Regions from separate parts of the Homo sapiens genome. Here region 2 is linked to region 1. Evidence: fine-mapped QTL for protein levels in blood plasma. A gene starts in region 1. The other region holds a variant in brackets. All regions are shown on one strand. Distances are between the middles of the regions.

Region 1 (14,742 bases):
GGGGGCAGGGGCCTCGTGGAGCTTGTGTAGACGGAGGGGCGGCGGGCCGTGTAGTGCAGGCTGCGAAGACTCACCGCGGTGAAGTGCGGCCAGGTGCGCAGCAGGTCGAAGAGCGCGTCGCCGGGGCAGTCGGTGCGCACCAGCTGGCGGTGGCCCAGCAGCGCGTAGTCTGGCCGCAGGAGGCCGGCGCGCACCGCACAACTCGGGAGCGTGTCGCGCACCGTGCGCAGAGCGGCCTCGGTGGGCAGCGCCGCGGTGTAGTTGCCCACTATGGCCACGCCGAAGCCCCGGGAGTTGTGGCCGAGCGTGTGGGCGCCCACCCAGTGCCAGCCGCGTCCCTCGTACACGTAGCCGTCCGAGCCCACCACGAAACTGCAGAGGGGAGGGAGAAGCAAGCACCATGCGGCGTGAGGGGGACCCGGGCCCTTATCCGCTCCCCTCCCCGATTCTGTTGGTGTGCCAAGGGCCACCGACCCCAAGACCCGCGCGGTCGCGCTGCCTGTGTCCCATCCAGCTCTGTTCCACTCTCACACCAGCTGCCACTCCAGGACCGTTCGGTTTCTCTGGATCCGCCCTTCAGTACTGGCACGCCCCTTTCTGCCCTTCTCCTCCCCACCTCTGCCTTTTCTCAAGCCCAGTTCTTGCCCAATTCAGAGAGCTTTTCTGTTTTTGGGTTTTTTTTCTTTCCTTCCTTCCTTCCTTCCTTCCTTCCTTCCTTCCTTCCTTCCTTCCTTCCTTCTTTCTTTCTTTCTTTTTTTGATGGAGTTTCACTCTTGTCGCTGAGGCTGAAGTGCAAGGGCGCGATCTCGGCTCACTGCCACCTCCACCTCCCGGGTTCAAGCGATTCTCCTGCCTCAGCCTCCGGAGTAGCTGGGATTACAGGCACCCGCCACCACGCCCATCTAATTTTTTTTTTAATTTTTATTTTTAGTAGAGACGGTGTTTCGCCATGTTGGCCAGGCTGGTCTCGAACTCCTGACCTCAGGTTATCTGCCCTCCTCGGCCTCCCAAAGTGCTGGGATTACAGGCGTGAGCCACTGTGCCCAGCCTTCTCCCCTCCCCTCGCCACCCCTCCCTTCTTCCCTTCCCTTCCCTTCCCTTTTGGAGACGGAGTTTCGCTCTTGTAGCCCAGGCTGGAGTGCAACGACGCGATCTCGGCTCACTGCAACCTCCGCTTCCCAGGTTCAAGTGATTCTCCCGTCTCAGCCTCCCGACTAGCTGGGATTACAGGCATGCACCACCACGCCCGGCTAATTTTGTATTTTTAGTAGAGACGGGGTTTCTCCATGTTGGCCAGGCTGGTCTGGAACTCCCGACCTCAGGTGATCCACCCGCCTCAGCCTCCCAAAGTGCTGGGATTACAGGCGTTAGCCACCGCTCCCGGCCTCCTTCTTCTTTTCGAGACGGGTTCTCGCTCTGTCACTCAGGCTAGAGTGCAGAGATGCGATCATAACTCACTCAAGCCTCGAACTCCTGGGCTCCAGCGATCCTCCCACCTTAGCCTGCCGAGTAGCTGGGACTACAGGCGCGCAACACCATGCCCAGCTTTTTTTTTTTTTTTTTTTTTTTTTTTGAGACGGAGTCTCGCTCTGTCGCCCAGGCTGGAGTGCAATGGCGCGATCTCGGCTCACTGCAGGCTCCGCCTTCCGGGTTCACGCCATTCTCCTGCCTCAGCCTCCCAAGTAGCTGGGACTACAGGCACCCGCCATCACGCCTGGCTAATTTTTTTGTATTTTTTAGTAGAGACGGGGTTTCACCGTGTTAGCCAGGATGGTCTCAATCTTCTGACCTCGTGATCCTCCCGCCTCGGCCTCCCAAAGTGCTGGGATTACAGGCGTGAGCCACTGCGCCTGGCCTTTTTAAGTTTTTTTTGTTTGTAGAGATGGGTGGTGTGGGGGGGTGTCTTCCTATATTGCTCAGGCTGGTCTCGAACTCCTGGGCTCCAGCGATCCTCTCTTCTCAGCCTCCCAAAGTGGTGAGATTACAGGCGGGAGCCACCGCACCAGGCCTCCTTGTCTGTTTTAGGCCATCTCTGCCTGGCCCCAGACCCAGACTCTGCCACAGGTCCCGCTCCTCTCCCAGATCCCGCCTCCTGTACTAGTTCTCTACCCTGACTGGAGTCCCATGATTTAGCTATTCCCGGTCCCTATTAAGGCCCCGCCCCTAGCCTAAGCCACGCCACCTCTCCAACTTTGCTCTACCTATCAGGACTCCTCCTTGGTCTTGCCAGCTTTCCTCGGGTTCAAGCCCGGTCCCCTGCATCAGGCTCCGCCCACTCAGACCCCATCCCCGAACGTGGGCCCCGCCCCCTCCCCGGTCGGGCCCCTCCTACCTGTAGCCGATGTCTCCCCAGCCTTGCGTGTCCTGGTGGTAGCGCTGCATGGAGCGCATGTTGGCTGCGCAGCGCGTGAAGTCCGTGCAGGGTGGTGCAGGCACGTAGGTGTGATGCACGTACAAGAATCCCAGCGGCAGCTGCAGCAGCTTCGGGCGGCCCCGATAAGGCGCCGCTCCCCAGCGGCAGCGGGGGTGGATGGCCGGGCATCCTACAGGCAAGGGGGTTGAAGGCTGGGGTCAGGAACTGTTTCTCTGCCTGTTCCTCCACCCGCATTAAAGCGCACATACAGACCATCCCTCAGCCTCCTCTCAGATTTGGAAAGGGTCCAGTCTCACCCCACATTGGTCCTCCCTGGGGACCAACTAACTATACTCAACTAAATCTATTTTATTTTTATTAAAAAAAATTGGGGGTGGGCCGGACGTAGTGGGTCTCACCTGTAGTCCCAGCAGTTTGGGAGGACGAGGTGGGTGGATCACTTGAGGTCAGGAGTTTGAGACCAGCCTGGCCAACATGGTGAAACCCGGTCTCTACTAAAAATACAAAAATCAACCAGGCATGGTGGCACATGCCTGTAATCCCAGCTACTTGGGAAGCTGAGGCATGAGACAACTTGCTTGAGCCTGGGAGGTGGAGGTTGCAGTGAGCCGAGATTGTGCTATTGCACACCAGCCTGGGTGACAGAGCAAGACTCTGTCCCCCCCAAAAAAAAATTGGAGGTGGGGGCAGGCATGGTGGCTCACTCCTGTAATCAATCCCACACTTTGGGAGGCGAGGTGGGTGGATTGCTTGAGCCCAGGAGTTCAAGACCAGCCTGGGCAACATAGTGAGACCTCATTTTCTAGAAAAAGAGAAATCAGATTTCCCAAAGCAATCTACAGATTCAATGCAATCTCTATCAAAATATCAAAGTCATTTTTCACAGAATTAGACAAAACTATCCTGAAATTCGCAAGGAACCAAAAATGAGCCCAAATAGCAAAAGCAATTCTAAGCAAAACGAGCCTGGTATCACATTACCTGACTTCAAATTATACTACAATACTATAGTAACCAAAACAGCATGGTACTGTTACAAAAATAGACACATAGACCAATGGAATGAAATAGAGAACCCAGAAGTAAAGCTGCACACCTACAAACAATAATTTTCAACTAAGTCGACAAAAATAAGCAATGGGAAAAGGACTGCCTATTCAGTAAATGGTGCTAATGGTGCTGGGACAACTGGCCAACCATATGCAGAAGAATGAAACTGGACCCCTAACTCTTACCATATACAAAAATTAACTCAAGGACAGATGCGCTAGCTCACGCCTGTAATCCCAGCAATTTTGGAGGCTGAGGTGGGTGGATCACCTGAGATCAAGAGTTTGAGACCAGCCTGGCCAACATGGTGAAACCCCGTCTCTACTAAAAATACAAAAATTAGCCGGGCATGGTGGTAGGTACCTGTAATCCCAGCTATGTGGGAGGCTGAGGCAGGAGAATCGCTTGAACCCAGGAGGCAGAGGTTGCAGTGAGCTGAGATCACATCTTTGCACTCCAGCCTGGGCAACAGAGCAAAAACTCTGTCTCAAAAAAAAAAAAAAAAAAAAAAAAAAAAAAAAAAAAAAATTGCTCAAGATAGATTAAAGACTTACATGTAAGACCTGAAACTCTAAAATACCAGAAGAAAACCTAAGGAAAACGCTTCTGAACATTGGGCTAGGCAAAGAATTCATGACTAAGACCTCAAAAGCACAGAGCAAAAGAAACAAAGTAGACAAATGGGACTTAATTAAACCAAAAAGCTTCTGCACACCAAAGATATAATCAACAGAACGAACAGACAACCTTCAGAATGGGAGAAAATATTTGCAAACTATGCACTGGTATGGGACTAATACCCAGAATTTACAAGGAACTCAAACAATTCAAGAAAGAAAAGAAAGAAAGAAAGAAAGAAAAAGAAAGAAAGAAAGAAAAAGAAAGAAAGAAAGAAACCCACTAAAAAGCGGGCAAAAGACATTAATAGACATTTTTCAAAAGAAGATATACACATGGCCAATAGGCAAAGGAAAACATGCTCAACATCACCAATCATCAGAGAAATGCAAATTAAAACCACAATGAGATATCATCTTACTCTAATCAGAATAGCTATTATTAAAAAGACAGAAAAGCCGGGTGATGGCTCACGACTGTAACCCCAGCACTTTGGGAGGCTGAGGTGGGTGGATCACCTGAGGTTAGGAGTTTGAGACCAGCCTGGGCCAACATGGTGAAACTCTGTCTCTACTAAAAATACAAAAATTAGCCGAGCATGGTGGCAGGCACCTGTAATCCCAGCTACTTAGGAGGCTGAGGCAGGAGAAACGCTTGAACCCAGGAAGTGGAGGTTGCAGTGAGCCGAGATTGTGCCATTGCACTCCAGCCTGGGAGACAAGAGTGAAACTCTGTCTAAAAACAAAACAAAACAAAACAAAACAAAAAAAATAATAATAAATTGGAACTATCATTCAATCCAGCAATCCCACTACTGGATATCTACCCAAAGGAAAATAAATCATTATATTAAAAAGATACCTGCATTCACATGTTGATCAGGGCACTATTCACAATAGCAAAGGTAAGAAATTAACTTAACTGTCCATCAAAAGAGAATTGGATAAAGAAAATATGATATATATTACAGGCCTGGATGGCTCTGGGTCTGAGAGCCCTGGACGAAGGTCAGGCCCAGGTTTCCAGCTAGGGTGATTGCCAGGAGGTTGTCTACAGTGGTCGGCAGGAAATGGAATACTACTCAGCTGTAAAAAATGACATAATGTTGGCTGGGCATGGTGGCTCACGCCCGTAATCCTAGCACTTTGGGAGGCCAAGGTGGGTGGATCACGAGGTCAGGAGATCGAGACCACCCTGATAAAATGATGAAACTCCGTCTCTACTAAAAATACAAAAAATTACCCAGACATGGTGGCACATGCCTGTAGTCCCAGCTACTCAGGAGGCTGAGACAGGAGAATTGCTTGAACCCAGGAGGCGGAGGTTGCAGTGAGCTGAGATCGTGCCACTGCACTCCAGCCTGGGCGACAGAGAGAGACTCAAAAAAAAAAAAAAAGAAAGAATGTCTTTTGCAGCAACATGGATGGAACTGGAGGCCATTATCTCAAGTGAAACAAGTCAAACACAGAAAGACAAATACCGTAAGTTCTCACTTATAAATGGGAGCTAAATAATGTGTATGCATGGATGTAGCGTGTGGAAAGATAGATAGTGGAGATTCAGAAGGGTGAGGGAGAGAGAGGAGGGAGGATGATGACAGATTGCTTAATGGGTGGATGTATGTTATTGGAGTGATGGGTACCTAAAAGCCCAGACTTGACCACTATGCAATCTATGCGAGAAACAAGGTTACACTTGTACCCCATAAATTAATGCAAATAAATATAATGAAGCAAAACAAAATGAGATGAACTCCTATTCATCCTTCAAGGCCCAACTCTGGCATTTCCTCACCTGTGCAGCTGTCCCACCCACCCCCGACCAGATCCCTTATTGCCCCCTCTGGACTCTCCTAGTCCTCAACTTCCCTGAATATACGGGGTGGGGGCGTCTGTGTCTGTAATGGGAAGGATCACAGGGTGTGGGGAACTTCCTCACCCAGGAAGGCCTCAGTGAATTCCTTGGTAGCATTGGCAGCCACCTGGGCCAGCTGTTCTTGGCTCATGCACTGAAGCTGGAGGTGTACTGGCTCCAGCCTCTGTAGAAGGACAAGGGTTCCCCACACCTGCTGGGCCAGGATGGAGGCTGAAGTCAGAGCAGCACCGTTCTGCCGTCGGAAGTTGCTGCGGAACCCTGGGTCTCTGGCCACCCCAGCCCCATAGTACTGGCTCAGCAAGTGGCTGAGGGATGGCCGGGGCTCAGGAGTCCGGCTCAGGTAGTCTCCAAGGATGACCCCATCCAGGGCGCCATTGAGGAAGGCCATGGTTAACAGAGATGCCTTGGGGTCCAAAAGCGTAAAGGTCCGAGGGGCAGAGAGCTGGTCCCAGCAGCCCTCAGTTCCCAGGTCTGGATGGCTCTGGGTCTGGGAACCTCGGAGGAAGGTCAGGCCCAGGTTTCCAGCCAGGGTGACTGCCAGGAGGCTGTCCACCATGGTCGGTGGGGACTTGGCTTTGGCATCTGGCAAGGAAGCTTGGACATCTGGACAGCCTTTTGTAGCATCTGGAGTGTTGGCTCCAATATCTGCAGTGGTGACATCTGGAGAGCCATCCCTGAGTCCTGGGGAGGAGGTGGCTCTTACATCTGGAGCAATGGCCACAACATCTGGAAAGGTATCTCCAGTCTCCCAAGGGGCAGCCATGCTGTCCAAGGGCAAATTTATGACCCTGCGCCCTTGCAGCCCTGCCTCCAGCCCCGCCAGCAGAGGCTCCACAGCCACGGTCGAGCCATCAGGTGCCAGCACCACCCCATATTCCTTCCCTTCTCGTACGTCATGTCGGGCCACCTCCTTGGTCAGGCCTAACAGCTCTGGGCTTAGTGGGCAGGGATCCAACTCTGTAGCATTGAGGCTCCATGCCCCCAGCAGGAAGTGGTAGAGGCGATTGTGGGGGCCAGAGTTTGGAGCTGACATCAGCCACGCAGAAGCTGTGTGTCTGGTCTTGGCAGCTGGCACTTTCTGCTCCAGCTCAGCCAGGGCCTGGATGACAGAGTCCATGAGCAGGGGCAGGGAGGCTGCAGGAGGAAAGAATGTGTTAGCCCAGCCCCACCCATTCCTGAGCCTCCTTGTATTGATTCCACATCTACCCAATGCTCCCAGCCCTCCATCTGATAACCCCATGACCCCCAACACTATCCTTGTGTAGATGAGGAAAGTGAGGTACACAGACTATTGCCTGTTGGTTAAGGAGCTCAGACTGTCTGTGAGTACTGGGGAGCCATGGCAGATTTATGAGCAGGACAGAGGTGTGACGAACCTGGCATTCTAAGACTCCTTTCTTAGGCTTAGATTTGTTTGGCTGCCATAAGGAAATGGATTTTTGGGGTGCCAGGATAGAAAAGGGGAGACAGTGTGGAGGTGAGAGATGAAGGTGGCAGAAGGTAGGTAGTGACATTGCAGTGGACAAAAGTGGAAGAGTCCCCAGATCGTGAGAGGGAGAGATGGATGGTCTTTTGTGATGAATTGAAGTTAAAAATTGGGGATGTTAGAGGGAAAGGTATTTTGAAAGATGCCTGGGACTGGCTGTGGTGGCTTAGGCCTGTAATCCCAGCACTTTCGGAGGCCGAGGTGAGTGGATCACCTGAGATCAGGAGTTCAAGGCCAGCCTGGCCAACACCGTGAAACCCCATCTCTAATAAAAATACAAAAATTAGCCAGGCATGGTGGTGTGTGCCTGTAATCCCAGCTACTTGGGAGGCTGAGACGGGAGAATCACTTGAACATGGGAGGTGGAGGTTGCAGTGAGCCGAGATTGCGCCACTGCACTCCAGCCTGGGTGACAGAGTGAGACTTTGTCTCAAAAAAAAAAAAAAAAAAAAAAATGCCAGACGCAGTGGCTCACGCCTGTAATCCCAGCACTTTAGGAGGCAGAGGCGGGTGGATCACCTGAGGTCGGGAGCTCAGGACCAGCCGGATCAACATGGCGAGACTCCGTCACTACTAAAAATACAAAAATTAGCTGGGCATGGTGGCACACACCTGTAACCCCAGCTACTCAGGAGGCTGAGGCAGGAGAACTGCTTGAACCCAGGAGGTGGAGGTTGCAGTGAGCCAAGAACCCCCCACTGCATTCCAGCCTGGGTGACAGAGTGAGACTCCATCATAAAATAAAATAAATAAAATAAAATTAAATTAAAATAAAATAAAATAAAATAAAATAGCCTGGGAGGCAGGGGGAAGAGCAGGATGGGCTTGTGCCATGTTGGGGAAATGTCAGTGGCTGAACTGCAAACCTAGAAATGCTAAGTTAGGCTCAGAGCTGGTTCAGAGATGGGTTATCAAATAATAGCTAACTTTCAGTAAACATTTACTATGTGCTAGCTACTAGTCTAGGTGACTTATATATTAATAATTTAACGCAGTTAGTCTTCACAACTCTTGTGAGGTAGGTCCTTTTAGCCCCTGTCTTAGTACATTGGTGCTGCTATAACAGATCTCTGAGGTTGGGTAATTTATGAAAAACAGAAATTTGGCCAGGTGTGCTGGCACATGCCTGTAATCCCAGCACTTTGGGAGGCCGAGGCAGGCGGATCACTTGAGGTCAGGAGTTTGAGACCAGCCTGGCCAACATGGTGAAACCCCGTTTCTACTAAAAATACAAAAGTTAGCCGGGTGCGGTGGCGGGCACCTGTAATCCCAGCTACTTGGGGGGCTGAGGCAGGAGGATCTGTTGAACCCGGGAGGTGGAGGTTGCAGTGAGCTGAGATCATGCTGCTGCACTCCAGCCTGGGCGACAGAGTCAGACTCTGTCTAAAAAACAAAAAAAAAGAACAGACATTTATTTCTCATAGTTCTAGAGGCTGGGAAGTCCAAGATCAAAGCACTGGCATTTGGGACTTCCTAGCCTGCAGAACTGCAAGAAAGTAAATTTCTCTTCTTTACAAATTTACTCAGTTTCAGGTACCCTGGCCTATATAGAAGCACAAAGGGACTAAGATGGTGTCCCTTTACAGATGAGGCATCTGAAGCACAGAGAGGTTAAGTTACCTGCCTAAGGTCACACAGGAAGGAAGTGGCAGAGGCAGGATTTGCCTTTGTTTTTTTTTTTTTTTTTTGAGACGGAGTCTTGCTCTATCATCCAGGCTGGAGTGCAGTAGTGCTCAGCTCACTGCAACCTCCTGAGTTCAAGCAATTTTCTGGCCTCAGCCTCCTGGGTAGCTGGGATTACAGGTGCCTGCCACCACGCCTGGCTAATTTTTGGTATTTTTAGTAGAGATGGGGTTTCACCATGTTGGCCAGGCTGGTCTCGATCTCCTGATCTCAAGTGATCTGCCCGCCTTGATCTCCCAAAGTGCTGGGATTACAGGCCTGGCCAGTAGTAGAATTTGAATCCAGGAAGTCTTACTCGACACACTCTCCTGGTCTAGAATCTAGGTTCTTCTCCAGTCCACCACCTAACCTGTGTAGCTTTGCTCTTCTCTGCAAAAAATGCCCTTTCTGGCTTCTCCCCCAAATCATTTCTCTTTCTTCCTAGCCTAGCTCTTATGTCTCCTCCTCCAAGAAGCCTTCCCTACTTTTGCTCTCCAGGCCCCAGATTCCTTCCCTTATCCTTGCCTTGACTCTGTGGAGCTGGGAATATCTATGTCCCCATGCTGGAGCTTCTTTGAGAGCTTGAGTCTCCAGCCTCACTCCATGCAGGGCAAGACATAGATGGGACAGCAGTACGCCTTCTGCAGAGCCAAGAGGTTTGGTCCCAGGACTCTGCCCCCTGACTCACCTGTCCCTGGGTCTGACCACAGTAGCAATCCGAGTAGGATCCAGAGGACACCCTGGGCCATTGTTGCAGGATTCCAGCTTCCAAGGGGTATTTCTGGTTGGCCTCGGCAGAGAACCTCGGCAGTGCTGGAGGGAGACAGGCACAGAGAACTGAGCAGAGCCTTTGACCACTGTCAAAGTCCAGCGGCGAATGACAGACCTGCCTCTCGTAGAGCTGTGGGCGGGAGGCAGCAGGGACATGGGGCAGCGTACCCTGGGTCAAGGTCATCTGGGCATCCTGGTCTCCCCCAGTCTCTTCTGTCCCTCCTAGGCTGAGGTCAGTGGTCAGTAAGCCAGGCCCATCCCCAGAGGGGCCTGGAGACCAGGTGGTTCAGACTCCATAAACTCTGCCCATTCTCCAGTGAGGTGGACCGAGGCAACCCCTCAAGTCCTGTCCCTCCCCATAGTGACGGCTCTGTAGCCGCTGCTGGCCACCAGAGGGGACTCTCAGCTGCCGCCTGCTGTACTGGTAAGACCGGCTGTGTTGAGGGAGAGGAGAGAAGCAGAGGCCTGAAGTTGGCACTGCCTTCTGCTTTTTTTTGCAACCAACACTTCAGGCTCAGGCACAGCATCGGTGCGGGGGCTGAGGACAGTGTTTGCTGAGGCCTGAAGTTGGCACTGCCTCCTGCTTTTTTTTGCAACCAACACTTCAGGCTCAGGCAGAGCATGGGTGCAGGGGCCGAGGACAGTGTTTGCTGAGGCCTGCTCTGAGCCCATGGGGACCAGGGGCTGTCACCTCTCATCCAGTTCCAGCCCTTGATTTCAAGCCACCAGCAGTAGCTGAGAGCAGGGGTTGAGCTTGAGTGTTCAGGACCCTGGCATTGTTCCAGGAGCTGGCTTCTGGACTCACCTGGGCTGACAGTGAAATGTCCTTCCTCTTCTCCGGGTGCCCATGACTGAGACCTGCAGAATGGACCCATCTCCCCTTTATTCTGGCATCAGATGGGGCAGGTTGACATGACTGGGCTGTTGTGTATGTAAATTGCTTCCCTGTGGGGCTCCCACCTCAAAACCAGCCCGGGGAGTTTCCAGGAGACCCACCAGCTGGAGACTCAGCCAGGGCAGGCCTGGGAATGTCCAGCCTGAGCCAGGCCTGGGATTCCCCTGGGGGCCACCCCTGGGGCCTCCTCAGGTGTCCTCTTTCTGGGGACCTCCCAGAAAAAAGCTGGGCACATAGTGGAAGCTCAGGATGTAGGGTGCTAAGTGATAGAGTGAATGGGGGACACTTCCCATGGGAGTAAGAGACAATGTCCTCCTCCAAGCTCGTTTCCCAGGATTTGGGGATAGGAGCTTTGCCTGGTAGAACCATATGAAGGTTGTGGGCTGAGGCAGGGACTAGGTTGAGGCATCCTCTTTGCCGCAAAATTTAAGGCAGTGTTGAAAATCTAAGTCATCAATAACTTTTTTTTTTTTTGAGACGGAGTCTCGCTCTGTCACCCAGGCTGGAGTGCAATGGCACGATCTCAGCTCACTACAACCTCCACCTCCCAGATTCAAGCAATTCTCCTGCCTCCCTGCCTCAGCCTACCAAGTAGCTCAGGTTACAGGCATGCGCCACCATGCCTGGCTAATTTTTGTATTTTTAGTAGAGACGGGGTTTTGCCACGTAGGCCAGGCTGGTCTTGAACCCCTGACTCAGGTGATCCACCCAACTTGGCCTACCAAATTGCTGGGATTACAAGCGTGAGCCACCATGCCCGGCCGATAAATAATTTTAAGACTTTTTTAGAACAGTTTTATTATTATTATTATTTTTAAAGATGGAGTCTTGATATGCTGGCCAGGTTGGTCTTAAACTCTTGGCCTCAAGCAATCCTCCTGCCTCGGCCTCCCGAAATGCTAGGATTACAGGCGTGAGCCACTGCACCCAGCTTTATTTTTTATTTTATTATTATTATTTTTTGAGGCAGGGTCTCCCTCTGTCACCCAGGCTGGAGTGTAGTGGTGCAATCTTGGCTTACTGCAGCCCTGCTTCCCAGGTTCAAGTGATTCTCCTGCCTCAGCCTCCCAAGGAGCTGAGATTACAGGTGCCCGTCCACCACTTCCAGTTAATTTTTGTATTTTTAGTAGAGACGGGATTTCAGCATGTTGGCCAGGCTGGTCTCAAACTCCCAACCTCGGGTGATCCACCTGTCTTGGCCTCTCAAAGTGCTGGGATTACAGGCTTTTTTTTTTTTTTTTTTTTTTTTTGAGACAGAGTCTCGCTCTGTTGCCTAGGCTGCAGTGTAGTGGCACAATCTTGGCTCACTGCAGCCTCTGCCTCCCAGGTTCAAGCTATTCTCCTGCCTCAGCCTCCCGAGTAGCTGGGATTACAGGTCCCCGTCACCACTCCCGGCTGATTTTTGTACTTTTAGTACAGATGTAGTTTCACCATGTTGGCCAGGCTGGTCTTGAACTCCTGACCTCAGGTGATCCACCCGCATCGGCCTCTATTTTTAATTTTTTATAGAGATGAGGGTCTCGCTATGTTGGCCAGGCTGGTCTCATCTCCTGGACTCAAGGGATCCTCCTGCCTTAGCTTCCCAAAGTGCTGGGATTACAGGCGTGAGCCACCATGCCTGGCCTAGAGCAGTTTTAGGTTCGTGACAAAATTGAGCAGAAGTTACAGAGAGTTCTACTCCCTGCCTTGACACATGCACAGACTCTCGTATTATCACTATCCAGCACCAGAATGGTATATCTGTTACAATCGATGAACCTTCACTGACACATCATTATCACCCAAAGTTCATCATTTCCATTAGGGTTTGCTCTTGGTGGTGTACATTCTATGGGTTTGGACAAATGTATAATGACATATGTCCACCACTAGAGTGTCATACGGAGTACAGTTGACCCTTGAACAACATGGGTTTGACCTGTGAGGGTCAACTTATATCTGGATTTGTTTCAATAAAAATTACATGGACTGTGCCTGCCTCTCCTCTCCCCTTCCTCCTCTTCCACCTCTGCCACCCCTGAGACAGCAAGACCCCTCCTCTTCCTCCTCCTCAGCCTACTCAACATGAAGACGGTGAGGATGAAGACCTTTATGATGATTCTCTACTTAATGAATAGTAAATATACTTCCTCTTCCATATTTTCTTCCTTCTCTTCCTTCTCCTTTCTTCCCTTCTCCTTCCTTCCTTCCTTCCCTCCCTCCCCCCTTCCTCCCTCCCTCCTTTCTTTCTTTTTTCTTTCTTTCTTTCTTCCTTTCTTTCTTTCTTTCTTTCTTTCTTCCTTCCTTCCTTCCTTCCTTCCTTCCTTCCTTCCTTCCTTCCTTCCTTCTTTCTTTCTTTCTTTCTTTCTTTCTTTCTTTCTTTCTTTCTTTCTTTCTTTCTTTCTCTTTCTTCTCTTTCTTTCTCTTTTTCTCTTTCTTTCTGGCAGAGTCTCATTCTGTCCCCCAGGCTGGAGTACAGTGGCGTAATCTCAGCTCACTGCAGCTTCCATCTCCTGGGTTCAAGCGATTCTCCTGCCTCAGCCTCCTGAGTAGCTGGGATTACAGGTACCTGCCACTATGCCCGGATAATTTTTGTATTTTTAGTAGAGATGGGGTTTCACCATGTTGGGCAGGCTGATCTCGAACTCCTGACCTCAGGTGATCCATCCACCTCAGCCTCCCAAAGTGCTGGGATTACAGGCATGAGCCACTGCACCTGGCTCGTGGATTTTTTCCAATAAGTTACATGGAGTGTGTCTGCCTCTCCTCTCTCCCCTTCCACCTCCTCCACCTCTTCCACCTCTGCCACCCCTCAGACAGCAAGACCAACCCCTTCCCTTCCTCCCCCTCAGCCTATTCAACATGAAGACGATGAAGATGAAGACCTTTATGATGACACACTTCTACTTAATGAATAGTAAACATACTTCCTCTTCCATACGATTTTCTTAGTAACTCTTCTTTTTTCCCAGGTTCAGGTGATTCCCTCGCCTCAGCCTCCAGAGTAGCTGGGACTACAGGCATGCACCACCAAGGCTAGCTAAGTTTTCTATTTTTAGTGGAGATGGAGTTTTACCACATTGGCTAAACTGGTCTTGAACTCATGACCCCAGGTAATCCACCTGCCTTGGCCTCCCAAAGTGTTGGGATGACAGGCGTGAGCCACTGCACCCCACCTGATTTCCCTTTAAAGCTTGGAGTTGGGGCAGAGACTGCCTTGTTTTAAGCCAGGGGCATGTCATGGATGGCAGGCTCTTTCCTTAGGGTCTATGTAGGATTTGTGACCTTCTGGGGCAGGACCCTTCCTCCAGGGAGCCTCTGTGGTTACCCCTTGCTCCCCTTACTCCTCCCAGCTCCCTGACCTGCTGTTCTTCCCTTCAACCTAGGCTGTGCTTACAGTGCTGGAAGGTTCTTTGTCCAGTTTTGTCTCCCCAAATCTAGGAGATGCTGAGTTTTTGGGGCTGTCCAGAAGTGCCCAGCACAGACTCAAGACCAAGTGAGTGTCAGGGAGGGATTGCTAAATGCACAAAAAGCCTGATGAATGATGTGGGGCCAGTTTGGGGTCAGGATCTGAAACACACACATGTACACCCACATTCAGGCACTCACACACCAATGCATCAGGGCTGGGCTGGGCCTGGGAGGCAGAAAGAAGGCTGGAAATCCCACAATGAATCACCTCTACCCCAGGTTTCCTTCAACCTCAGGAGGCCCACTTGTCAGATAAATCAAGGCCCCTTGGCCGGGTGCGGTGGCTCACGCCTGTAATCCCAGCACTTTGGGAGGCCAAGGCGGGCAGATCACCTGAGGTCAGGAGTTCAAGACCAGCCTGACCAATATGATGAAACCCCGTCTCTACTAAAAATACAAAAATTAGCTGGTGTGGTGGCATGCACCTGTAATCCCAGCTACTCAGGAGGCTGAGACAGGAGAATTGCTTGAACCCGGGAGGCAGAGGTTGCGGTGAGCTGAGATCGCGCCATTGCACTCCATCCTGGGCAACAAAAGCAAAACTCTGTCTCAAAAAAAAAA
Region 2 (14,742 bases), 31 kb after region 1:
CCTTCAGGGTTGGGCAGTGAGGAAGCAAGCTCTTGCTCCCCGTTTACTCTGTTCATGATATTGCAGCCAGAGGAAGCCTGTTAAAACCTCTCAGGGGACATCCCTTCTCTGCCTAGAACCCTGTATGGCTCCCACCTTCCTCAGAGTAATAACCTAAGCCCTCTCAGTGGTCCCCCAGGTCCTAGACAACCTGTCCTGTCACTTCCCTGCATTTATCTCCTCCCGGTATCCCCCTCACTCACTCTGCTGCAGCTTCACTGGCCTCTTGACTGTTCTTTAAGGCATGGTCCAGCCTCAGGTCCTTTACACAGGCTGTGCCCTCTGCTTGGAATGCTTAAGATCCCTGTTCAAATATCAACTCCTCAGAGAGGGCTTCCACATCTCCTTACCTTGCTAGGTTTTGTCCCATAGCACATATCACATAGATTATACACTTTTAATTTATGTGTTTTTGTTTATTCACTGCAGAGCAATGCCTGGTACCATGTGCAAACTTGGCATTTGTTGAATGAATATGTGCTATGTGACAGCTGGGGCTGGGGACAAGGCAGAGAAAGAGAAAGATCCCTTTTACCTGCGTGGAGTTTACAGCCCTATCCAGGGCTAAACAAATCATTCCAAGAGGCAGGCACGGTGGTTCATGCCTGTAATTCCAGCACTTTGGGAGGCCGAGGCGGGTAGATCACCTGAGGTCAGGAGTTCGAGACCAACCTGATCAACATGCTGAAACCCTGTCTCTACTAAAAATACAAAATTATCTGGGTGTGGTGGTGCATCCCAGCTACTTGTGAGGCTGAGGCAGGAGAATCACTTGAACTCGGGAGGTGGAGGTTGCAGTGAGCCAAGACCGCGCATTGCACTGCAGCCTGGGCAGCAAGAGCAAAATTCTATCTCAACAAAACAAAACAAAACAAAAACAAAACAAAAAAATCATTCCAAGAGCAATTTTACTGGGAGCGAGGACACTCAGGGGCTGTGGCTGCATTGAGTATGGGCTGGAACTAAGCCCAGTGACTGGGGAAGCCCTCAGAAAAAATGGCCTTAAGTAGGAGTTAGTTGGGTGGGTGAGAGGAAGATAATTCCAAGCAGAGAGAAGAGCATGTGCAAAGGATTTAAAGTTGGAGAGATGGTCTTTGATGGGTTTGGCAAAAATGGTCCCAAGTGGCTTGTGTGTGGATGGGGAGAAGGAAAGTGGCCAGCACATGTTAAAAGGGGCCATTTAACACCCCACTTGCCTCTCACCTTTGAATTGCTTTCCTTCCTTCCTTCCTTCCTTCCTTCCTTCCTTCCTTCCTTCCTTCCTTCCTTCCTTTCTCTCGCTCTCTCTCTTTTTTTCTTTTTTTTTTTTTTCGGAGTTTTGCTCTTGTTGCCCAAGCTGGAGTGCAATGGCATGATTTTGGCTCACTGCAACCTCCACCTCCCAGGTTCAAGCAATTCTCCTGCCTCAGCCTCCCAAGTAGCTGGGATTACAGGTGCGTGCCACCATGCCCAGCTAATTTTTTGGTATTTTTAGTAGAAACGGGGTTTCACCATGTTAGCCAGGCTGGTCTCGAACTCCTGACCTCGGGTGATCTGCCTGCCTTGGCCTCCCAAAGTGCTGGGATTACAGGCATGAACTACCATGCCCAGCTGTGTTGCTTTCTTTGTTTGAAATCTCTGATATCACCTGTTCTGTTTCCACTTTTCTGCCTCACTGTTTTTGTGTCCCAGGAGGCTGATGTATATGGACCACTCAATGAGCTCCTTTGTCTTGTGGCTTCCAGTTGGGTTGAAACAGCAGGGAGCCATAGCAGGCATTGGAGGGAGGGAGGAAAGTGAGGTTAGGTTATTTGTAACTCATCTTCTTTCCATGCAGGCTGGCTGTGTCCCTCCACCGGAGGTTCAGAACTCTTGACAGGTGGACCTCTTTGCATAGCCCTGTCTGGTCCAGGTTCTAGCAACTTTAGTTCCTTGGCCCCAGGTCCTAGGGGTGGTAACTAATTTCAGCTGTTACCAGCCCCTGGTGTGCTGCACTATCCCTTTGAAAATAGTGCTTTTTATTAAACTCTCTACAAATTACTCCACTTAAGTGTTCGGTCTGTTTCCTGCCGAGTTCTTTTTTATTTTTATTTTTTTTGAGATGGAGTCTCACTCTGTCACTCAGGCTGGAGTGCGGTGGCACGATCTTGGCTCACTACAACCTCTGCCTCCCGGGTTCAAGTGATTCTCCTTCCTCAGCCTCCCGAATAGCTGGGACTACAGGCGTGAGCCCCCATGCCCGGCTAATTTTTGTATTTTTAGTAGAGACAGGGTTTCACCATGTTGACGAGGCTGGTCTCGAATTCCTGAGCTCAGGAGATCTGCCCGCCTCGGCCTCCCAAAGTACTAGGATTACAGGCATAAGCCACCGCGCCTGGCCCTCTTTTGTTTTTAGAGACAGGGTCTCACTCTGTTGCTCAGACTGGAGTGAAGTGGTGCAATTGTAGCTCACTGAAACCTCAAACTCCTGAGCTCAAGCAATCGTCCCACCTCAGCCTCCTGAGTAGCTGGGACTACAGGCATGTACCACTATGCCTAATTTGTTATTTTTTATAATTTTTACAAAAAATTATTTTTTTTAGAGATGGGGTCTGGCTATGTTGCTCAGGCTGGTCTTGAACTCCTGGACTGAAGCAATCCTCCTGCCTCGACCTCCCAATAATAATAATTATATATATAATTATTATATATATTATATATAATAATTATTATATATTATATATATATAATTATTATATATATATAATATATATATATATAAAGTATTTATTTTAATTGAGGTGAGGCCGGGCACAGTGGCTCATGCCTGTAATCCCAGCACTTTGGGAGGCTGAAGAGGGAGGATCACTTGAGGCCAGGAGTTTGAGACCAGCCTGGCGAACATGGCAAAACCCCGTCTCTACTAAAAATATAAAAAAATTAGCTGGCTGTGTGTCACAGGCCTGTAATCCCAGCTACTTGAGAGGCTGAGGCACGAGAATTGTTTGAACCCAGGAGCCGGAGTTTGCAGTGAGTTGAGATCGCACCACTGCACTCCAGCCTGGGCAACAGGTGAGACTCTGTCTCAAAAAAAAAAAAAAAAAAAAAAAAAAATTGAGGTGAAATTCACATAACATAAAATTAACCCTTTAAAGTGTAGAATTCAGTGACATTTAGTGCATTCACAATGTTGTGCAACTATCACCTTTATCTAGTTCCAGTGTTTTTGTCACCCCAAAAGGAGGTCCTATAACCACTCCCCCTGGGTATGGGCTTCTCTCTCCATCCCCCCTCCCCCAGCCCCTGGCAACAACTACTCCACTTTCTGTCTCTGTGAATTCACTTAGTCTGAATATTTCATATAAATGTAATAATGCACTGTGTGACCTTTTGTGTCTGGTTTCTTTCACTCAGCACAATGTTTATGAGGCTCATCCACATTGCGGCATGGATCAGGGTTTTATTTATTTTTATTTGTATTTTTTTTTTCAGACGGAGTCTCACTCTGTCCCCCAGGCTGGAGTGCAGTGGTGCGATCTTGGCTCACTGCAATCTTTGCCTTCCGGGTTCAAGCGATTCTCCTGCCTCAGCCTCCCGAGTAGCTGGGATTACAGGTGCCCGCCACCGTGCCCAGATAATTTTTGTATTTTTAGTAGAGACAGGGTCTCACCATGTTGGCCAGGCTGGCTCAACCTCCTGACCTCAGGTGATCCACCTGCCTCGGCCTCCCAAAGTGCTGGGATTACAGGCAAGAGCCACCTCGCCCGGCCTTTATTCTTTTTTATGACTGAGTAATATTCCATTGTATGGATGGACCACAGTTTGTTTATCCATTCATCTGTTGGTGGAATTTGGGTTGTTTCCACCTTTGGCTATAATAAATCGTGCTATCCCGAGCACTCCTCTACAATTACGTGTGAGTAACTGTTTTCTTTTCTCTTTCTTTCTCTTTATCTCTCTCTCTCTCTCTCTCTCTCTCTCTCTCTCTCTGTCTCTTCTTTCTTTCTTTTTCTTTTTTTTTGAGACAGGGTCTCATTCTGTAGCCAGGCTGGCGTGAAGTGGTACAATCTCAGCTGACTGCAATCTCAGCCTCCCAGTCTCAAGCTGTCTATCCTCCCACCTCAGCCTCCCAAGTAGCTGGGACTATAGGTACGCACATCATGTCCAGCTAATTTTTTATATTTTGTAGAAATGAAGTCTTGCTATGTTGTTCCCCAGGCTAGTCTGGAACTCCTGGGCTTAAGTGATGCTCTCTTGCCTCAGCCTCCCAAAGTGCTGAGATGACAGCTGTAGACCACTGTACCTGGCAAGTACTTGTTTTCAGTTATTGTGTGTGTATACCTAGGAGTGGAATATCTGGGTCCTATGGTAATTCTGATTAGCTTTTTGAGAAATTCCCAAACTGTTTTCCACTGTGGCTGAACCATTTTACGTTGCCACCAGCAGGGTATGGCGAGATCCCTCTTCTTTTTATCTTTGACTCCCTGCCATGACCTGCCACATCCACTCCCAGACAGCTTTCTACTACCATTTCCCAAGTCCAGCCACAGCCTCCACTTCCTCCCCTCCCACTTCAACCTCACCCCACTGAGCCCTGGGCTGTGGCAGGCTGAGGGCTCTGGTGGCATGGGAACCACACAGCTCTAGAGCTTGGGTTCCTTGACGTCTAGGTGCCAGTGATGGTCCCTACTACCACTCTTCTCAAACTCCATCTCCAGCTCCAGCTCAGTGCTGCTGCCTGTCCTCTCTATAAATGTAGCTATTATCTCTGAGGTCAGGAGTTTGAGACCAGCCTGGCCAAAATGGCAAAACCCTGTCTCTACTAAAAATACAAAAATTAGCCGGGCGTGGTGGTGCAAGCCTGTAATCCCAGCTACTCAGGAGGCTGAGGCAGGAGAATTGCTTGAACCCGGGAGGTGGAGGTTGCAGTCAGCCAAGATAGCACCACTGCACTCTAGCCTGGGTGACAGAGCAAGACTCTGTTTGATTAAAAAATAAAATAAAAGGCCAGGCACGGCAGCTCATGCCTGTAATCCCAGCACTTTGGGAGGCCAAGGCAGGTGGATCACTTGAGGTCAGGAGTTTGAGACCAGCCTGGCCAATACGGCGAAACCCCGTCTCTACTAAAAATACAAAAATTAGCCGGGCTTGGTGGTGGGCACCTGTAGTCTCAGCTACTCGGGAGGCTGAGGCAGGAGAATCGCTTGACCCCGGGAGGCGGAGGTTACAGTGAGCCAAGATTGTGCCACTGTATCCAGCCTGGACAACAGAGCAACAGAGTGAGACTCCATCTTAAAAAAAAAAAAAAAGTGGCTGTGATCCCCACTTCTGCCCTCCCCTCCTCTTCTCTGCCCACCTCCCTCCTGAGTGATCTCGCTGACCTACTGCCATGCCATCCACCGTCTTCCCAAGGCAGGTGACTCACAGATGCAATTCTCAGGAGGTGCCCTCACGCTGAGCCCAACTGCCTCCTGGATGTCTCCCTGAATGTCATCCCATGAGACCCACGAGACTTTTAGACTGAAGGTGACCCACGGTTTCCCAATCTTAGCACTGTCAACATTTGAGCCTGGATTATTCTTTGGGGGTGGGGGTGTTCTGGATGTTGAATAATATCTCTGGCCTTCACCCACTAGATGTCAGTTGCACCACCCTGAATTCCCCCACCCCCACCTCTACCCCCCACCCAGCAGTATGATCTCCTGATGTTGCTAAACATTCCCTGGCGGAAAACTCTACTCTGCTGGGATGGCCCCAATCAACTGCAAACTCAAACAGCTGATGTTTGTCCAGCCTGTGCCCTGTGCCAGGAGTGGGGCTGAACACCACCTCATCACATGGGCTTCTTCTGCATTTTATGCATAGGGAGATGGAGGCTCAGAGCAGCCATGTGACTAGCTCAAGGCCACACATCCACGAAGCCCACTCTTAGTGCTCCAGGCCCTTTCACTTACTCCTCCTTCCTGGTCTCCAGCTCTTTGAGAGCAGAGAAGCCAGGCAGATGGCTTCTTTTCCTTCTCTCTTCCCTAGAACCCCGTATTTAGCCAGTGGTCAGTGGAGATGACCTCCGGGACCTCATCCTTAACCCCTTCCTGGGTCTCAGCTACCCCCACCCTTTGTCTCTGTCCCCTGCAGCCACTGGAGGGGTCCCTCTCAAACTTCACTCTATGTGGATCTCTGCATTTTCCAAAGTGCTTCTAGTAAGCTCCCCCTTGGCCAGAATTACTGGCAAAACAAAATTCATATCCCTAAAAAATAGGCTTTCATGCTGCGTTAATTATGAATAAAAAATTAATAAAATAAGCTCTTCCTCAGAAGTAAAAAAGATTAAAGACACAAATAAATATAAATATTTTTTTTTAAAAGTTCTAGGAGCTGGGAGAATGGCTTGAGCCCAGGAGTTTGAGACCAGCCTGGGCAACATAGTGAGACCCTGTCTCTAAAAAAATGAAAAAAAAAAATTAGCTGGGTGTGGTGGCACGTGTCTGTAGTCCCAACTACCCAGGAGGCTGAGGCAGGAGGATGGCTTGAGCCCAGGAGTCACCCCAGCCTGGATGACAGAGTGAGACCAATCAACTAACAGGGGGCACCTCCCCTACTCAAGCACCATCCATGGCTCCCCACTGCCCACCAGATCAAGATCCAGCCATTCAAACTGGCCTTCACAGTCAACTCCTGCATCCCTCCAGCCTCCACACCTCTCACACTCCAAGGCCAGGGAAAGCCATCTGCTAAGTCACACCCTCCAGTTTCTCTGTGCTTGAGCTCTACCCCCTCTCCTGCACTTGTTGAAATCCAACCTCTCCATGCAGTCCCAGCTCAAGTGTCACATCCTCCACGTCGCCTTCCCTGACCTCATGTCTGCCTCCTCCAAGCAGCAAAACTTCAATTACTTGTGTCTCCTCTTCTTCACCAGGAGACATGCCCCACACCTCCCACGCCCTCTTTCCAAGGGCCCAGCACCAAATGAGAGCGTATTCTTAGAAAAAAGAGGGATAAGGAAGTCTTCTAAGTTTACCACCTGCTGGGGCAAGTGGAGATTCTTGTCTTCTCATCTGTCTGCCCACGTGCTAAGGTCAGCCACACATCCACCCACCGACTCCGGAGGACAGACACATCCAGAGGCGGAGCTGACTCTGTCTCCACACATCTGGAGTAGACGGGTTGGCCAAGGACAACATCCTGGTCAGAGGGTCAAGGTGTCTGGCAGTGGGTGGGGAGGAGTGGCGGAGGGCGGGTTGGCGGGGAGCAGAACCAGTCTGGTGCTGCTTGTTGAGGTTGGAGGTCTTCCTGGAGGAAGAGGCTGCAGAGCCTCCAGGGGTGGGTGCCGGGGAAGCTTAGGCCCAGGATCCAGAGAGAGGGGAAGGGCTGGTTCCCAAGGGCTGGTGGAGCCAGAGAATTCCTGAGGGCCCCAGAGGAGGCTTCTCGGGGGGGTCAGTGGGGCCCCAGGGGGTGATGGTTTAGAGATCGCTGTCCAAGCTTGGGAGCAAACCTGGAAGTAAGGGCCATGGGGGGTGTTGGTGTGGGAGGAGTGTGGTCCAGAGCGGGACTTGGGCGCTAATGCGGCCCAGCAGTGGCAGGAGGGCGGGGAGCCTGATGGTTTGGGACTTCTAGGTGTCCAAGTCTCTGTCTCTCTTCATCTCTCCATCTCAGTCTCAGTCTCTCTCTCTTTCCATCGCTCTCCACCCCTCCACACGCCTATTTCTTGTTCTCTCCTTTTCTAGGGGGCAGCGCTGGAGTCCCCGCCCAGAACCCTGCGGGAGCCCGGGGCGGGATGTCCGGGGGCGGACCCCTCGGCACGGCCGGGCGGGGTTAAAGGGTTGGGCCGTGGGACGGCGCGGTCAGATCCCAGGTAGTGGCGCCGGTGGATCCGGATCGAGGGCAGGAGGCTGAGACCCGCGGGTGAGTGCGCGCGTGGTGAGGGCTGTAACCTGAGCGCGGCCGCGGCGCTGCGCTGGAACCCGAGGCTCGCGCGGTTCGGTGCTGGCGGGGCAAGGGCGAAGGTCTGCGCGCGGCGGCGGGCGGGGCGCAGCCGGCCACGGGGACCCCCCCAGGACCCAGGACGGGGCTGCATGCCCGGGGCACTCGTGGGGAGAGGGGCACGTGGGTGTGTCCCCGACGTTTGCTGCATTTGTGAGTTGTTTTCTTTTTTTTTTTTTCTGTGTGCGCCTCGGAGTCCTAGGCGCATCCTTTTCTCTGGGTATCTGTGATGGGCAGGGGGCCTCCAAAAGACCCCTCTGGTAGTCAGGACATCCCAGATGGGTTCAAGCCCCGCCCTGGGACGCCTCTTTGGGGCTGAATGGGGATTCGCCCTGAGATTTCACCACTGCACGTTGTCTTGACGGGGAGGTTGTAGTACATTCAACCGATGGGGTTAGGCTTGTGGTTCAACTGCTATCAGGAACCCTCTGCCCATCCATGCCAGACGCAGAGCCCCTCTATGAAAAGACGGTGTTCTTCTGGCCCCGAGAGTTGGCTCTGAGGGTTGTGTGAGGTCCTGGGGTTGGTCCCAGGTGATCTTCGTCTGATAGATGCTGGAAGGAAGATGTTTTCTGGCCTCCCAGGGGCCTGGCCCAGCCTGGGTATGCAAGTTGGCCGAGGCTGGCCACCTGGGGAGTCGCAGGCTGGAGAGGCCTAGGCTCAGGGCATCTCTCCTGGTTCATCTGCCCGCTCACAGCTCATTCATGCACTCATTGTGAGTCTCACCGCCCTGTAGGCAAAGGAGATGGCCAGGGCTGGCTGCGTACCCGAAATTCCTCCTACCCTGTGCCCCTTGCTCCACCCCTTATTTCTAGGTCCTGGAGCTGTGCCCAGCCAGGGCTGGCAGCATCAAACTCCTTCTTGTGTAACTCCAAACCCCAAAGAGAAGGAACCTCCCCAAATCTTCCCTACCACCCTCATTTTACAGGCACGGAAACTGAGGGCCAGAGAGAAGAAGCCTGTGCCTGTGGATACCCAGTGCCCAGTGGGAGAGCTGGGATTTGAAAAAACAAGCCCTGTTTGACCCCAAAGCCTCAGTCCACTTTCCGATGTCCCCGGCATCACCAAATGGCCCAGCTTGGGTTTCTGAACAGTAACATTAACTCTGGCCTGGTGTCTGGCGGTGACCCAGGTTGGTATCTGCAGAGGGGCTTGGATGACTTGAGAGGCATTCAGGGAATGGGACCCATCTCTCCTTCCTTCCTTCCTTCCTTCCTTCCTTCCTTCCTTCCTTCCTTCCTTCCTTTCTTTCTTTCCTTCCTTCTTTCTTTCTTTCTTTCTTTCTTTTCTCT[G/GTC]TCTCTCTCTCTTTCTTTCTTTCTTTCTTTTTTTGTTGTTGTTGTTGAGACAGGGTCTCACTTTGTCACCCAGGCAGGAGTGCAGTGGCATAATCATAGCTCACTGCAGCCTCGATCTCCTGGGTTCAAGCAATCCTCCTACCTCAGCCTCCTGAGTATGGAGGACTACAGGCATGCACCACCACTCCTGTCTACTTTTTGTATTTTTGGTAGGGATGGGGTTTCACCATGTTGCCCAGGCTGGTCTTGAACTCTTGGGCTCAAGTGATCCACCCGCCTCAGCCTCCCAAAGTGCTGGGATTACAGGCATGAGCCACTGCGCCTGACTCATCTCTCCTTGTTGATAAAACTTGGACCTGATTCTCCAAACCCCAGATGGCCAGGTCACAATAATGAACGTGATGGCAGCACCAACGGTAATGAGAGATATCATTGATCAAAGGCTTACTATGTGCCTGGAAGATTGCAGCCCCATGAGGTGGGTAAATAGGGCTTCTGTCTTAATGGATGAAGAAATTGAGGCTCAGAGAGGTGCAGACACTCACCCGAGGTCGCACAGCAAAGAGGCAGACCTTTATAGAATCTTTTCTGAGGCTCATGTCCAGGTGTGGCCACACTTGGGATGGTGGGCAGAAACAATTACAACCCTGCAATGGTCTAGATTATTAGTGGTTTTAAAACTTCTTTTTCTGCCAGGATCCCCTTTGGGCCAAGGAAATTATTAGCAAAAGGTTTGAATATGATCAAAGCTGCGATAGGACTGTCTCCTTTACCACATTTGCCAACTTGGCCCTGCCCTCATTAGTCATAAATGACTCTGAAGCTCTTTCTCAGAACCTTAGAAATTTAGAGTGCTGAGTGGAGACTGAAGACCTAGAAGCCAGGCTGAGTGTGGTGGCTCATGCCTGTAATCCCAGCACTTTGGGAGGCTAAGGCTGGAGGATGGTTTGAGCCCAGGACTTTGAGACCAGCCTGGGGAATATAGGGATACCATATATATATATATATATATATTTTTTTTTTTTTTTTTGAGATGGAGTTTTGCTCTTGTTGCCCAGGCTGGAGTGTAATGGCGTGATCTTGGCTCACTGCAACCCCTGCCTCCCGGGTTCAAGCTGTTCTCTTGCCTCAGCCTCCTGAGTAGCTGAGACTACAGGCATGTGCCACCATGCCTGGCTAATTTTGTATTTTTAGTAGAGATGGGGTTTCTCCATGTTGGTCAGGCTGGTCTCGAACTCCCGACCTCAGGTGATCCTCCCTCCTCCCAAAGTGCTGAGATTACAGGCATGATTACAGGCATGAGCCACCGCGCCCAGCACTATATTAATTTTTTTTAACAAAAAAATTAAAAAAAAATTAGCTGAGCATGGTGGCAGGCGCCTGTAGTCCCAGCTACTCAGGATGCTGAGGTGGGAGGATCACTCAAGCCCAGGACGGGGAGGTTGCAGTGAGCCAAGATCACACCACTGCACTCCAGCCTGAAGGACACAGCAAGACCATGTCTAAAAAACAAAACAAACAAACAACAACAACAACAAAACAACTTAGAAGTCCCCTCTCAGCTCCAGCCTTCTGGGGTCTGGCACTTTGGGGGAATATGTGAGTCTCTGGGGTAAGCCAGCCCTCTGATGTTGAGGAAGCCAAGGTGGCACCATGAATCAGTGGGGACGGGGGCAGGCTGCCTTGACTACAGGCTTGGAGTGAAAAGGAGGGCTGGGATTTGGGGTGATGGGGCCAGCGTTGGGGTGCTCTTCCATCAGGCTCCTGGCTGGTCCCAGCCCCTGCAGTTCAAGAAGAGGCATGTATCTCGTACCTGGCGTCGGCCTGGGTCCGTGCCCTCCACTCCTTCTTGGGAGCCCACACACCTTGTATAACAAGTCCTCAGTGGGTGAACGGCTGGGCCAACCTGACAAACCAGCGCGACCTGGGCGTGGGCCGGGACACGGAGCCAGTCGCTGGCTTTCACCACCACCAGATAATGCGGGCCCTGGCAGGGCAGGGCCACCTCTACCAAGGCGGGCCTGCTGGATGAGATCGGGGGCCGGTGTAGATAGGGAGTGGACATGCCAGCCGCCCACAACATTCTGAGGGTGTCACCTTTGAATTGCTCTCACTTCTATCAAATAGCAATAATAGGAGTAGTCATCATGGCTAACATTTTGTGAGCTACGTGACAAGGCCTTTCCATGCCTCATTTCACTGAGCCGTCCCAAAAACCTTAGGGGGTAGGTCCTGTTATTATCAACCCATTTCACAGATTGGCAAAGGGAGGCTGATGGCAGGGACTGGGTTCACCCAAGGCTGCTAACCTAGGGAATAGGAGAGCTGAGATTTGAACCCAGGCCTGTTGAAGTCAAAAGTGAACATTAAATTAAATTAAATTAATTTTAGTTTTTGAGATAGAGTCTCACTCTGTCCCCCAGGCTGGAGTGCAGTGGCAAGATTTTGGCTCATTGCAACCTCTGCCTCAGCCTCCCAAGTAGCTGGGGCTACAGGCATCCACCACCATGCCCAGCTATTTCTTTTTTTCTTGGTAGAGACAGGGTTTCATCATGTTGCCCAGGTTGGTCTTAAATTCCTGACCTCAAGTGATCCTCCCTCCTCAGCCTCCCAAAGTGCTGGGATTACAGGCATGAGCCACCATGCCTGGCCTGATTTTTTTGTTTTTTAGTAGAGACGGAGTCTCACTATGTTGCACAGGCTGGTCTCAAATTCCTTGGTTCAAGTGATCCTCCCATCTTGGCCTCCCAAAGTGCTGGGATTACGGGCATGAGCCACTTCACCTGGCTGATACCTTTCCTCCATTATCTAAACTCCATAGTTTACATTAGGATTCACTCTTTGTGTCATGCAGTAAACTAATGAATTTTTATAATTGATTCAATTTTTTTTGAATGGGTGACATGTGCTCATGGTATAGGAAACCAAAACGACTGGAAAAGTGGATAGTAAACTTAAGTTTCCCTTCCACCCCTGTCCCGAGTTCTTTCAGGCCCTTTCCAGAGGCTGCCACCATTTTTCCTGGGTCCTCAAAGCTTTTCTCTCTCTCTCTCTCTCTCTTTTTTGTATTACCATTTATTGGTGACAAACACTAAGTTTTACTCGCATTCCATGAGGAGAAAAACTCCAGTGTAAACGATGAATGGAGGCAGTACTTAACTCGCAGGGGTACCAGGCTTTCCATATGGACCACACACAGAGCCTCAGTGCACACACTTCTTTTTTCATTTTTATTTTTTTGAGACGGAATCTCGCTTTGTGACCCAGGCTGGAGTGCAGTGGCATGTTCTCGGCTCACTGCAACCTCTGCCTCCCGAGTTCAAGCGATTCTCCTGCCTCAGCCTCCTGAGTAGCTGGGACTACAGGCGAATGCTGCCACGCCCTGCTAATTTTTTGTATATATATATATTTTTTTTTTTTTTTTTTTTTGAGACAGAGTCTCACTCTGTCACCGAGGCTGGAGTGCAGTGGCGCGATCTCGGCTCACTGCAAACTCCGCCTCCCGGGTTCACGCCATTCTTCAGCCTCAGCCTCCCGAGTAGCTGGGACTACAGGCGCCCGCCACCTCGCCCGGCTAATTTTTTTTATTTTTAGTAGAGACGGGGTTTCACCGTGTTAGCTAGGATGGTCTCGATCTCCTGACCTCGTGATCTGCCCGCCTCGGCCTCCCAAAGTGCTGGGATTACAAGCGTGAGCCACCACGCCCAGCCTAATTTTTTTGTATTTTAGTAGAGATGGTGTTTCACCGTGTTGTCCAGGCTGGTTGCGAACTCCTGAGCTCAGGCAATCCGCACCCCCCTCGGTCTCCCAAAGTGCTGGGATTACAGGCGTGAGCCACCGCACCCGGCCCAGTGCACACACTTCTGTGTATAGTAACACAACATCAAAAGCAACACAACTGTATAAAGAAACATAGGTCATACTTTTCAGCCCTAATCGAGATGTAATTAATAGTATCGAGCACTCTGGAAAATCAGTCTGCAGTTTTATGTGAACTATGTGGAGATCATATCCTGTAGTGTAGTGAAAGCTAAGTCCTCAAGAGCCGTATGTATAGACACATGATTTTCTTAAAGAATATTTAAAATGGAGATCAAAGTTCATTTGTTTAAGTCCTGTTTGCATTAACAAAAATAAAAATAAAATAAAAATGGAAGCAAATGATCATCTAAAGTTTAAAATTCCTAAATTGTCCAATTTATACAACTGTGGGAGACTTATTCAAGGTTTTTGAAAGTCCAGGACTGTTTCAGCTGAACCATAGGGCACGTAATTTGCATCACTGAAATGGTGCTGGGTTAGTCAATGAAATAAAAATGTCTAACTACATACACGTGGATATGATCTTTGTCGGTTAGATTATTGATAAAGTCAGTCTCAGAAAAGTTTCCAAACTGTGCGATATAATTAGATACAGTTGAGAAACTCTCAAATGAAAATTTTATATAGTGTCGTCGGGCACGGTGGCTCATGCCAGTAATCCCAGCACTTTGGGAGGCCGAGGCGGGTGGATCACGAGGTCAGGAGTTCAAGACCAGCCTGGCCAAGATGGTGAAACCCCGTCTCTATTAAAAGTACAAAAACTAGCTGGGTGTGGTGGCCCAGCTACTCGGGAGGCTGAGGCAGACAATTGCTTGAACCTGGGAGGCAGAAGTTGCAGGGAGCCAAGACTGTGCCGTTGCACTCCAGCCTGGGTGACAGAGTGAGACTTTGTCTTGAAAGAAAGAAAGAAAGAAAAAGAAAGAAAGAAAGAAGGAAGGAAGGCAGGAAGGAGGAAAATTTTATATAGTGTCATACCAATAAAAAGGAAATAATGAAACTAAGAATACAGATCACTGTTGGAAGAGAAAGCAGTGGTGATGGTGTGGGCACTGCAGGAAGTGGTGGGGCCGTGGCACACTAGAAGTTAGGTCATGCTGAATAGGAAGCATTTGACTTTCTCTGGTGCTTTTAGCTCTGGGGCTGGTTGAAGGCCTCTCTCTGGTGTGGCTGTCCAGGGTTTGTCCCAACTAAGCCAGCTTGAGAAGGGGTCATGCTTTCAGTTTCTTCTTTCACACGGGAAAAAAAAGACCAAACAGGAAGGTGCCCAGGGCGTGGATCTGCTGGTGCCCCAGGAGAGCCAGCTGGCTGGGCAGCCCTTCTTCCCCAAAGGCAGCTGGTATTGCGTAGGGACAGCCAGGTCACCGAGTGGCCGTCACAACAAACCCCAGCACAGTCCAGCCCGGCCACAGCCACCTCCCCTGTTGTGTTCCCTGCTGCTGCCCACATCCTTTACCCACCGTCTCTCGGCCCACTAGAGGTATCAGAAATTCCAAATTTTCAAAGCAGTTTTAATATTTTCAGTGTATATGTTGGGATTTTATAATGGTTCATGGCCAGAAAAGGTTCAGCACCTCCCACACACAGACATTGATCCATTTCCTGTTCTTGGCATCTCTGTACTTTGTTGGTCCAACTCAGACAGCAACTTTAA

Direction of the effects. Alleles are on the strand shown, and positions count from the first base shown. The strength of an association depends on the size of the effect and on how common the allele is.
For the plasma level of the protein whose gene starts at base 9,944 in region 1, G is the high allele of the variant in region 2 and GTC is the other (weak association).

The links. A credible set is the group of variants that fine-mapping cannot tell apart. PIP is the posterior inclusion probability: the model's chance that the variant is causal. Protein levels are from antibody-based Olink assays in UK Biobank. Linkage for the fine-mapping came from a reference panel and not from the study's own genotypes, which makes the PIPs less certain.
Region 2: its variant is the best candidate, but not a certain one, in a credible set for the plasma level of the PGLYRP2 protein (UK Biobank, PIP 0.65).

The regions. Positions count from the first base shown.
Region 1 is chr19:15,469,558-15,484,299 of GRCh38, forward strand. It overlaps PGLYRP2 (peptidoglycan recognition protein 2), which reads right to left and starts at 9,944. Exons shown (of 5, transcript NM_052890.4): 1 at 9,754-9,944; 2 at 5,981-7,051; 3 at 2,333-2,543; 4 at 75-372. The coding sequence starts at 9,814. RefSeq lists enhancers at 329-418, 429-478.
Region 2 is chr19:15,500,685-15,515,426 of GRCh38, forward strand. It overlaps CYP4F22 (cytochrome P450 family 4 subfamily F member 22), which reads left to right and starts at 7,841. Exons shown (of 14, transcript NM_173483.4): 1 at 7,841-7,899. It also overlaps the pseudogene LOC100422106. RefSeq lists an enhancer at 7,485-7,985. The variant G/GTC (reference allele first, on the strand shown) is at 9,270.